Regions from separate parts of the Homo sapiens genome. Here region 1 is linked to region 2. The links come from fine-mapping of genetic effects on gene expression. A gene starts in region 2. The other region holds a variant in brackets. All regions are shown on one strand. Distances are between the middles of the regions.

What was found. PIP is the estimated chance that this variant, and not a neighbour inherited with it, causes the effect.
Region 1: its variant is the best candidate, but not a certain one, in a credible set for the expression of HTD2 in blood mononuclear cells (TOPMed, PIP 0.59).

Annotation. Positions count from the first base shown.
Region 1 is chr3:58,439,627-58,445,149 of GRCh38, forward strand. All of the region lies in intron 1 of LOC107986092 (a long non-coding RNA gene), which reads left to right. Among named protein-coding and RNA genes, the nearest start is that of PDHB, 8.6 kb to the left of the region's middle. The variant C/T (reference allele first, on the strand shown) is at 3,044.
Region 2 is chr3:58,303,855-58,308,854 of GRCh38, forward strand. HTD2 (hydroxyacyl-thioester dehydratase type 2) reads left to right here and starts at 2,666. Exons shown (of 5, transcript NM_001348712.2): 1 at 2,666-2,797. RPP14 (ribonuclease P/MRP subunit p14) reads left to right here and starts at 2,391. Exons shown (of 6, transcript NM_007042.6): 1 at 2,391-2,563. RefSeq lists enhancers at 2,177-2,256, 2,447-2,706, 2,827-2,956.

The DNA.
Region 1 (5,523 bases), 140 kb after region 2:
GTAACTTCCTGATGTTGCCATGGCATTTGTAAATTGTCATGGCGCTGGTGGGAGTGTAGCAGTGAGGATGATCAGAGGTCATTCTTATCGCCATCTTGGTTTTGGTGGGTTTTGGCTAGCTTCTTTCCTGCAACCTGTTTTATCAGCAAGGTCTTTATGACCTGTATCTTGTGCTGACCTCCTATCTCATCCTGTGACTGAGAATGCCCTAAATGTCTGGGAATCCAGTGTTAAGGGGGTGGTGGGGGGGCTTGTTCTTAGAGCTCCCAAGATGGTGGCACGCTGCTTCCAAGATGGCGGCAAGCCTCTTGTTCTCTGACCTGGGGTTCTTGGCCTCACGGATCCAAGGAATGGAATCTTGGACCATGTGGTGAGTGTTATAGCTCTATTAGAAGCCGTGGGTCACGGAAGAGAACCGTGGAACCCAGCAACTAGTGTTCAGCTCGATTAAGATGAACCCGGGCACTTAGCCGTGCAGGAACAATGGCAAGCCTTTAGCCCGATCGGGAGCGGCAATGGGTGCCTCGCTGGATCAGGAGCACAGCGGACACCCTGCCGGATCCAGAGGGGTGGAAGTCAGCAGCGGGTCTGCAACGGTGGCAAACAGCAGTGGTGGACGGTAAGCAAAAGCTCAGTTCGAGCCATAACAAACATGGACCAGAAGAGTGTGCAGTTGCAAGATTTAATAGAGTGCAAACAGAGTTCCCATAAAATGGGAGGGGACCCGAAGGGGGTTGCCGTTGCCAGCTTGAATACCTGGGTTTATATCCCGATTGTTGTCCCTCCCCCTGTGCTCTCAGGTGATAGATGATTGGCTATTTCTTTACCTCCTGTTTTTGCCTAATCAGCATTTTAGTGAGCTTTCTTTTCTACCTGATTTGTCAGGTGCGAGCTAAGTTGCAAGCCCCGTGTTTAAAAGTGGATGTGGTCACCTTCCCAGCTAGGCTTAGGGATTTTTAGTCGGCCTAGGAAATCCAGCTAGTCTTGTCTCTAACCAGTAGGTCTCAGCCTCATTTTACCCAGCTCCTATTCAAGATGGAGTTGCTCTGGTTCACATACCTCTGAGAGAGACATCAAGATGAAGGAATGATAGCCCAAAGAGAAGCCAGGATCTGGACCGTGGTCTAAACAAAGGACAGTATTCTTGAGATATATTTAATACAGAGATCCAGAAAAGCCAGGAACGCTGAGTCTGTGTAGCTAATCTGGAAGGCAATGTGAGTCACAGGCCCCAGCTGAGAATGTTCTTTTGAAATAATGACTGTGGACATTTTAGACACATTAGAAGTTTCATGCGCGTCTGTGTGAAGAGACCACCAAACAGGCTTTGTGTGAGCAATAAAGCTTTTAATCACCTGGGTGCAGGCGGGCTGAGTCCGAAAAGACAGTCAACGAAGGGAGATGGGGTGGGGCCGTTTTATAAGATTTGGGTAGGTAAAGGAAAGTTATAGTCAAAGGGGGGTTGTTCTCTGGCAGGCAGGAGTGGGGGTCACAAGTTGCTCAGCGGGAGAGGTTTTTGAGCCAGGATGAGCCAGGAGAAGGAATTTCACAAGGTAATGTCATCACTTAAGGCAAGGACCGACCATTTTCACTTATTTTGTGGTGGAATGGCATCAGTTAAAGCAGGAACAGGCCATTTAAATATCACTTCTTTTGTGATTCTTCAGTTACTTCAGGCCATCTGGATGTATACGTGCAGGTCACAGGGGATATGATGGCTTAGCTTGGGCTCAGAGGCCTGACAAGAAGTATATTCATTAGTACATGTGCCTTTCTTTCAAACTCAAACTGGCCAGTTTGGAAAGGCTGGGTGGAATTTTCTGTTTGAAAGCTGTTAACGAAAAAAGTCAAACTGTAAAATATTTAAAGAAGTTTATTCTGAGCCTTATAATTTAGTGACCTTGGCCCAGGACACAGCCTCAGGAGGTCCTGAGAACATGGGTTCAAAGTAGTTGGGTTACCATTTGGTTTTATACGTTTTACGGAGACAGGCAAAGACATACAGGCAAAGACATAAATCAACACATGTAAGGTATACATTGGTTGAGCCAGGAAAGGTGGGGCATCTCCAAGTCGGGGGTGGGATGCTTCCAGGTTATACATGGATGCAAAGATTTTCTGATTGGCAGTTGGTTGAAAAAGTTAAGCTTTGCCTGAAGAGTTGAAGTCAGCATAAAGAAATGCTTGAGTTAAGATAAGAGTGGTTGTGGAAGCCAAGGTTTTTGCTAAGTAGATGAAGCCTCTGAGTGGCAGGCTTCAGAGTAAATAGATGGTAAATGTCTCTTATCAGACCTTCAAAGGTGTCAGACTCTTAGTTAAATTTCTCCTGGATCAGGGAAAGACCTGGAAAAGGAAGGGGATTCTCTACAGAATGCAAATTTCCCCAAGGCAAGGCTTTGCAGGGCCATTCCAAAATATGCCAAATAAACATATTTTAGGGTAAAATACTTGCATTTCCTTTAGACCCTGTTATCTGTCATGTGATGGTATACCAGAGTCAGGTTGGAATTTGGTATCTTACTGCTATAAAGAGTCTGTTTTGTCAGTCTTAAGAAATGTATTTTAATGTTAATGCTGGTCAGTGGCACCTAAACTCCAAAGCGAGGAAAGTATACTGAGGGTATCCTACCTGCCTTCCCATCTAGTGGCCTGAACTTGTTTTTCAGGTTGTCTTGGGGAATCCCCTTGGCCAAGGGGGTGAGGGTCCATTCAGTTGATTGAGGGTCTTATAATTTTATTTTTAGTTTACAGAGTAAAAAACACAAAAGGTCAAAGTGGTGAATTTTAAATCCATAATCTTTTAAAAATGACTGCATCTCTATGCTCACTAGATTTTCCTAAAAGAGATTTCAAGGTGTAAATTGGCCAACTAGTCTTCTCTCGGAACTAAATCTTTTCAGGGTTACACGGAATATTTGCCCTTAAGAACATTTTGGGTTCTTTGTCAGTTGTCAGAAAGTCCTTCATTCAAGGTTTTTGGGCCGGGTGCAGTGGCTCACGCCTGTAATCTCAGCACTTTGGAAGGCCAAGGCAGGAGGATGGC[C/T]TGAGGCCAGGAGTTTGAGAGCAGCCTGGGCAACATAGTGAGACCTCATCTCTATTAAAAATAAAAATAATAATAAGATTTTCTGTATACCTTTTCCCAGTTATAATATATAGCCACAGTTATCAAAACCCAGTAACTGACTTTGGTACAACTATACTGTTAACTCCAGGAGAGACTTTATTCAGATTTCATCAGTTTGTATATGTATTTGTGTGTGTGTGTATGTGTGTGTGTGTGTGTGTGTGTGTGTGTGTAGTACTGTAGAGTTTTATCACATGTACATTTTCATGTAGCTACCACCACAATCAGAATACAGAATTGTTCCCTCGCCATAAAGAAACTTCCTTGTTACCTCACAGTCACATCTACCCCAACTCCTAACTCCTGGCTACCACTGATCTATTCTCAAGTACTATAATTTGTTATTTCAAGAATGTTCAATATGTATGATTTCAAGAATCATACGATACGTAGCTCTTTGAGATTGGTTCTTGTCATCAACTGACATGCCCTCAAGATCCATTCAAATTATGTATCAATTTTTTCCTTTTTTTTTTTTTTAATGAGACAGAGTTTCGCTCTGTTGCCCAGGCTGGAGTGCAATGGCATCATCTTGGCTCACTGCAATCTCCACCTCCCAAGTTCAAGCGATTCTCCCGCCTCGGCCTCCCAAGTAGCTGGGACTATAGCCACGTGCCACCACGCTCACCTAATTTCTGTATTTTTAGTAGAGACGGGGTTTCACCATGTTGGCCAGGCTGGTCTCGAACTCCTGACCTCAAGTGATCCACCTGCCTCAGCCTTCCAAAGTGCTGGAATTACGGGCGTGAGCTACTGTGCCTGGCCAAATTTTGTTTTTGTTTTTGTTTTATTGCTAAATTGTTGTATGGCTGCATTAATTTACCCTCTCACCCATTGAAGGACATTTGGGCTATATCCAGTTTTAGCTATTACCAATAACGCTGTTATCAACATTGGTTGTAGGAAAACAGCCTGCTGCATGGCAAGATTACACCATTTTGAAGCGAAACTGCTGTGATGACTGATGTCTGCATACCAACTCGTTCCCATTCCCACAACAAGGTCAAGAAACAATGCCCGTAGCATCCAACTCCTCATAGAGAAACAATGCCTGTACATAGATAACCCCTCATAAAGATACTTATCTAACTTCCCCAGTGGTCCCTAGTTGTTTCATAAGAGGGTCTGAGACATGACCAGCTGCACATGTTTTACCAAAAACAGCTTGCTAATTAAAGAATATTTTCCAGAAAGAAGGTTGGTTGTGGGCATCCACCATCACTTGGCTGCCAGAGATGCCACTTCTGTTTGTAAGTCCCTACTAAATGTTTCCTTCTGAGAAACTGGATTTTTCACCCTTTGTCTTCAGCCTCTCACCTCCCTTTGTCTTTGGGGGTTTACGTAGACCTGCTTACCACAGAACATTGACTTATAGGTTTAGGGGTGAGCATCAGCTTTCATTTCTGCAGGAAATCGTAGATTGTATGATTGTATGGTAATTGTATGATTGTAATGGTATGTGTATGTTTAAATTTTCAGAATATGCCAAACTCTTTTTCCAGAGTGGCTGTGTCATTTATGTTATGTCCCCAGTGCATGAGACATCTGGATCCTTTCCAGCACTTGGTAATATTATTAGTATTATTATTGGAGAGAGGGTTTTACTATGTCACCCAGGCTGGAGTGCAGTGGCACAATCACAGATCCTTGCAGCCTTGCTGTCTGGGCTTAAGCGATCCTCCCACCTCAGCTTCCCAAATAGCTGAGACCACAGGTGTGCGCCAGCACACCTGGTGAATTTTATTTTATTTTTGTAGAGACAGGGGTCTTGTCATGTTGCTTGGACTGGTCTCGAACTCCTGTCCTCAAATGATCCTTGCACCTTGGCCTCCCAAAGTGCTGGGATTATAGACATGAGCCATTACCACTGTGCCCAGCCCGATCATCTTTCCATGTGCTGACTTGCCATCCATCTTTGGTGACAGGTCATCCTCTGTGGTGAAAGTGTGTGTTTACATCTTTTGACCATATTCTAATTAGATTGTGTTTTAAAATTGTGATAAAATGTGCATAACATAAAATTTACCGTTTTTAGTTGTGCAGTTCTGTGGCACTAAGCACATTCACACTGTTTAGCCACACCACCATCCATCTCCAGAACTGTTTTATCTTCCCCAGCTAAAAGTCTACCAATAAACAATAACTTCATTCTCCCCTCCCGCCACTGTTGGGAAAAAGCTGAGTGTAGGGAGGGAAACTGAGGCAGGGCTTGCATAGTGTCCTTTGGAATGTGTCTAGACTTGCTGGCTGCTTGCTTCTAGCCCTCCTAGGCTCCTGTTCCCATTATCTCAAGTAGCAGGACATGTTCCATATAAATGCTAAACCATCACAGCTGTAAATCATGTGCTTAATGGAACATGTGGAGGTGTTGACCTCCACAGTCTCAACACCTGTTTCTT
Region 2 (5,000 bases):
ATCCTCCGCTCTGAATTAATAAGACAGCATGAGAGAATTCAGGCAACTGGGAAGACACTTCATTTTCAGGGTTTGTTGCAGCAGGGTGAAAATTATCTATTGTTCCTTGAAGTTCAAAATACAGGAATTGCTCTGGTTTTCCTGGGCCACCTGGCAGGATACATTTGCCAGGCAGCTGGCTTACAGGAACCCTCTCCCATTACTGAGGGTTTCCTGGGGTGCCAGACACTTTATACCATCAACTCTTTTTCCCTCAACTCTGTGAGGTAGATGCTAATAATCTCTCCATGTGACAGATGAGGGAGGTAGGTAAGTGGCAGAGGATGCATTTGAAGCAAGTTCTGGCAGCTTCTGAAATCAAGCTTTTTTGAGAAAGATAATACTTGGGTCTGTGGGGTCTGTGTTTGCTTTCTCCACCTCTTCCCACATCTGGAACAAGCCCTGTCTCCTCTGAAGGAAGAAGAAAGTAGGAACCACAGAACTGGAGAGCATGGCCAAGGTTGAGGACTGAAGCTTCTGGAAACAACACAGTGGGATTTTGAGAAAATAATTGAGGAAGGAGATCCCCGCTGACTCAACTGTCCTGTGCAAGGCAACCCTTTGCCCCCCAACCCAAGCAAAACCAGCACATCCATTTATGAACAAATGCCTTCAGTAAATAGATGTTGGGTCACCATTGGGTACCAGGAACTGGGATGCAGTGGTGAGAAACACAGACAAGGCCCCATCCTCATGGGGGTTACACTAAAGTTTCCCTTCCCACTGCAGCCCCTCAATTGGTGGTAATACAGTGCAGTATGGAGAGCACTGGCTAGAATCAGACAGCCCATGCCACTGCTTATAACTGTGATCTTGAGCAAATAACTTAGCCTCTCTGTGCCTCAGTTTCTTTTCCTGTTGCCAGGCTAGAGTGCAGTGGTGTGATCTCGGCTTACTGCAACCTCTACCTCCCAGGTTCAAGCAATTCTCCTGCTTCAGCCTCCCGAGTAACTGGGATTACAGGTGTGCACCACCGTGCCCAGCTAATTTTTGTATTTTCAGTAGAGATGGGGGTCTCACCATGCTGGCCAGGCTGGTCTCGAATTCCTGGCCTCAAGTGATCTGCCCGCCTCAGCCTCCCAAAGTGCTGGAATTACAGGCATGAGCCACTGCGCCTGGCCTGTGCCTCAGTTTCTACCTCTAAAATGGTGATGATCATAGTAATAGCCATCTCAGGATTGTGTGAGGGTTCCATGAGATGACATATGTAAAATATTTTGCATAGTGCCTAGCACAAAGTAAGTCTTTACTTTGTGGGTCTTTCCAGGACGGCCTAGATAGAACACCTACTATGTGCTGGGAGTCACAAGGGACACTGAGAGTGGGTCCTATCTTTGGGGAGTGCTTGACATAGGAGATCTTGAGGAGAGGAGATGCTAGATATAATTTTGTAGGCTGGGCGCGGTGGCTCACGTCTGTAATCCCAACACTTTGGGAGGCGAGGTGGGTGGATTGCCTGAAGTCAGGAGTTTGAGACCTGCTTGGCTAACATAGTGAAACCCTGTCTCTACTAAAAATACAAAAATTAGGCCAGGCGCGGTGGCTCACGCCTGTAATCCCAACACTTTGGGAGGCCGAGGTGGACAGATCACGAGGTCAAGAGATTGAGACCATGCTGGCCAACATGGTGAAACCTCGTCTCGACTAAAAATACAAAAATTAGCTGGGCATGGTGGTGCATGCCTGTAGTCCCAGCTACTTGGGAGGCTGAGGCAGAAGAATCACTTGAAGGGAGGCGGAGGGTGCAGTGAGCCAAGATGGCGCCACTGCACTCCAGCCTGGGCGACAGAGCGAGACTCCATCTCAATAAATAAATTATAATATAATGAAAAAAATGTGTAGAATGACTCGGGCGCAGTTGCTCACGTCTGTAATCCCAGCACTTTGGGAGGCCAAGGTGGGCAGATCACTTGAGGCGAGGAGTTCGAGACCAGCCTGGCCAACATGGTGAAACCCCGTCTCTACTAAAAATACAAAAATTAGCCAGGCATGGTGGAGCATACCTGTAGTCCTAGCTACTCAGGAGGCTGAGGTGGGAGAATCGCTTGAGCCCTGGAGGCGGAGGTAGCAGTAAGCCAGATCGCGCCAGTGCACTCCAGCCTGGGCGACAGAGTGAAACTGTCTCAAAAAAACAACGAAAAAATTGTTGAATGAATGAATGAATGCATGAAGAAATGGATAACTATGAAGCACCGTCCAAGGCGGAAAAAACCCGCCCTAAACCGCACCCCAAGCAAATTGCACACACGGCTTTCCCGGAGTGGACACCAGAGGGCGCTGAGCTCGGCCGCTCTCAGCTCCGGATCAGGATTCGCGCCTGGGTCCTTAGGACGACGCCGCGTGGTGACGTCATATCCGCCTGGGCGTCACGCTTCGTGGGGCGGGACGAGGAGAAGCCAAACGTAAAGACACCAGGAGTTTCTCGGGCCCAGCTGTGGCTGCTGCCGGGGAGCCCCAAGCCTTGGCGGGTCCTTGCGGCGAATAGGAGTCTGGTCAGGCGTCAGGCTAGTCCGACGAAGAGTGGGTAGGTGGAAGCCTTCCAAAGAGCGGCGGTTGTCTGGGAGCCGTCTCAGTTGGCCGCGACCCGGGCGCATGCGCGGGGCGGGCGGTGCGCCTTGGGTAGCTTGTCCTCTCCGACCCCGGGCGCTGAGGGCCTCTGTACGGCGCCGCGTAGGGTCTCGGCCGCAGAACGTGGCCGAGAGGCCCGGGCGAGACTTCGGGACCGTGTCCTGAGCGCTCTCCATGCGCCCGGCGCGAGGTGAGCGCTAAATAGTGGTTGTTGAAAAATATTGAAAGCCACCCAAGTGCTCAGCAGTAAGGATATTGAGCTTTTTAAAGTGATTGATTTAGTCCAAAAATTGTACGTCGCACGCCCACTGTGCACGACCCAGTGTTTTAGGGCCTTGGGAAACAGCAGTGAACAAGATAGCAAGATTCTTGGAGTGGACTTTTGTTGGGGTGGGGAGGGGAAGTACAGATAAAGATAAACGAGTTACATAATTGTCATAGAAAAAGGCAAATGCTACGAAGAAGAAAGCAGGGACGGGGCATGGGGGTGGGGTGCGGTGTTAGCCGAGAAGGGCACTGGGCCAACCCGATTGAGATTTGAGCTAAGCCAGGAAGGGGGCAAGGGTGTGAGTCCGGTGGCTGCCTGGAGGAAGATCTTTCCCAGCATGGGGAAAAGCTAGAGCCGAGGCCCAGCGGTGGGAGCGAGACTGGCGCGTGAGAAAGAGCTAGGCTAGGCCTGTGTGGTGGCGGGGATTGAGCGGAGGGAGAATGGCAGGACATGAAGTCAGAGGTGTAGAGGGAGCAGTCCTGCAGGTGAGGCAGAGCCTTGCAGGCTGCTCTAAGGACTTTGGCCTTACTCTGGATAAAACGGGAACCATAGCAAGATTTTGAGCAGAGGAATGATGTAGCTTGAGTAGATGTTAATAGACTCACTGGCCGCCGTAGGGATGGAGAAGCGGGGGAGTAGGGAGAATCAGATTTATTACTAATAGGTCAGATTAGGAGCATCCCTGCGCAGCCACTAAAAAAGGCTGACTCTAGGCCGGGCGCGGTGGCTCATGCCTGTAATCCCAGCACTTTGAGGGGGCCGAGGTCGGCGGATCACTTGACGCCAGGAGTTCGAGACCAGCCTGGGCCAACATGGCGAAACCCCATTTGTACTAAAAATACAAAAGTTAGCTGGGCGTGATGACGTACGCCTGTAATCCCAGCTACTCAGGAGACTGAGGAGCGAGAATTGCTTCGACCCAAAGCACTCCAGCCTGGGCGACAGAGTGAGACTCCATCTCAAAACAAACAACAAGACTGACTTTAAAGATGACGATGACAGTAACTTCGTGAGCCCACATCTGTGGAGAGCCTGGTGAATATATTTAATACCAGTCTGTACAAAATAATTTCCCAGGTATCCTCTCCTTTAATGTCAGAACAGCCTGCAGAGGGCAGTGCTGTCATTTGTAAGTCTTTTTTTTTTTTTTTAATTGCAAAAAATACGTGACATAAAATTTATCGTAAGTAGCATTGAGTACATTCACAACGCTGTGCAGCCATCACCACTGTCCATCTCGTGAATGTTGTGTAAGTCTTCGTTTTACTGGCATCTAAGCCCTGGGTCTAATTTCACTCCCCTATTTTAGGCAGCCAGCTCCATCAAGGCAGTAACACTAAAAAACATTTATGTGCCAAGCAATGAAAGAAACAGATGAGGTTTCTTGTTCTCCCTGCCCTTCTAGTTAGGGGAGACTCTAGTGACTGGGAAAGAAGCATCAGGTAACTATTTCCGCTGTCCTGAAACCAAGGATTCTTTTGAATATATAGGCCTATACCACTATCACTTTTCTCTCATTTGAATACCTACTTTGTGTCATAGTATTACAGTATTTTTTGTTTGTTTGTTTTGGAGACAGGGTCATGCTCTGTCACCCAGGCTGGAGTGCAGTGGTACAATCACAGTGCACTGTATCCTTAACCTCCCAGACTCAAGCTATCCTCCCACCTCAGCCCCTGGAGTAGCTGGGACTACAGGCACACACTACCATGCCTGGTTAATTTAAGTTTTTTTGTTTTTTTTTTTAGTGACAGGGTCTCACTATGTTTCCCAGGCTGGTCTCAAACTCCTGGCCTCCCAAACTGTTGAGATTACAGGCATGAGCACCACGCCAGGCCCCAAAGTATTAATGTTTGTTGAATGGATTGGTAGATGTAGCTCCTTGACCCTGACTTCTTTTCTCCAGAGGTCATCATCTGGGAGTGGTTGGAACTGGGTCTAACCCAGAGTGGTTTTGAAATGCTGGTCCATAGCTCTGTGACCTTGGATAAGTCCCTTTCCTTGATTGGGCCTCAGTTTCCTGTTCCCTGTAGTGGGGGATCCATATATTAAACAAATAGACAGTGTTAAGAGATTGCATAACATGGGGGCTTAACTTAGAGAAGGGTGTCAGAGAAGACCTTCA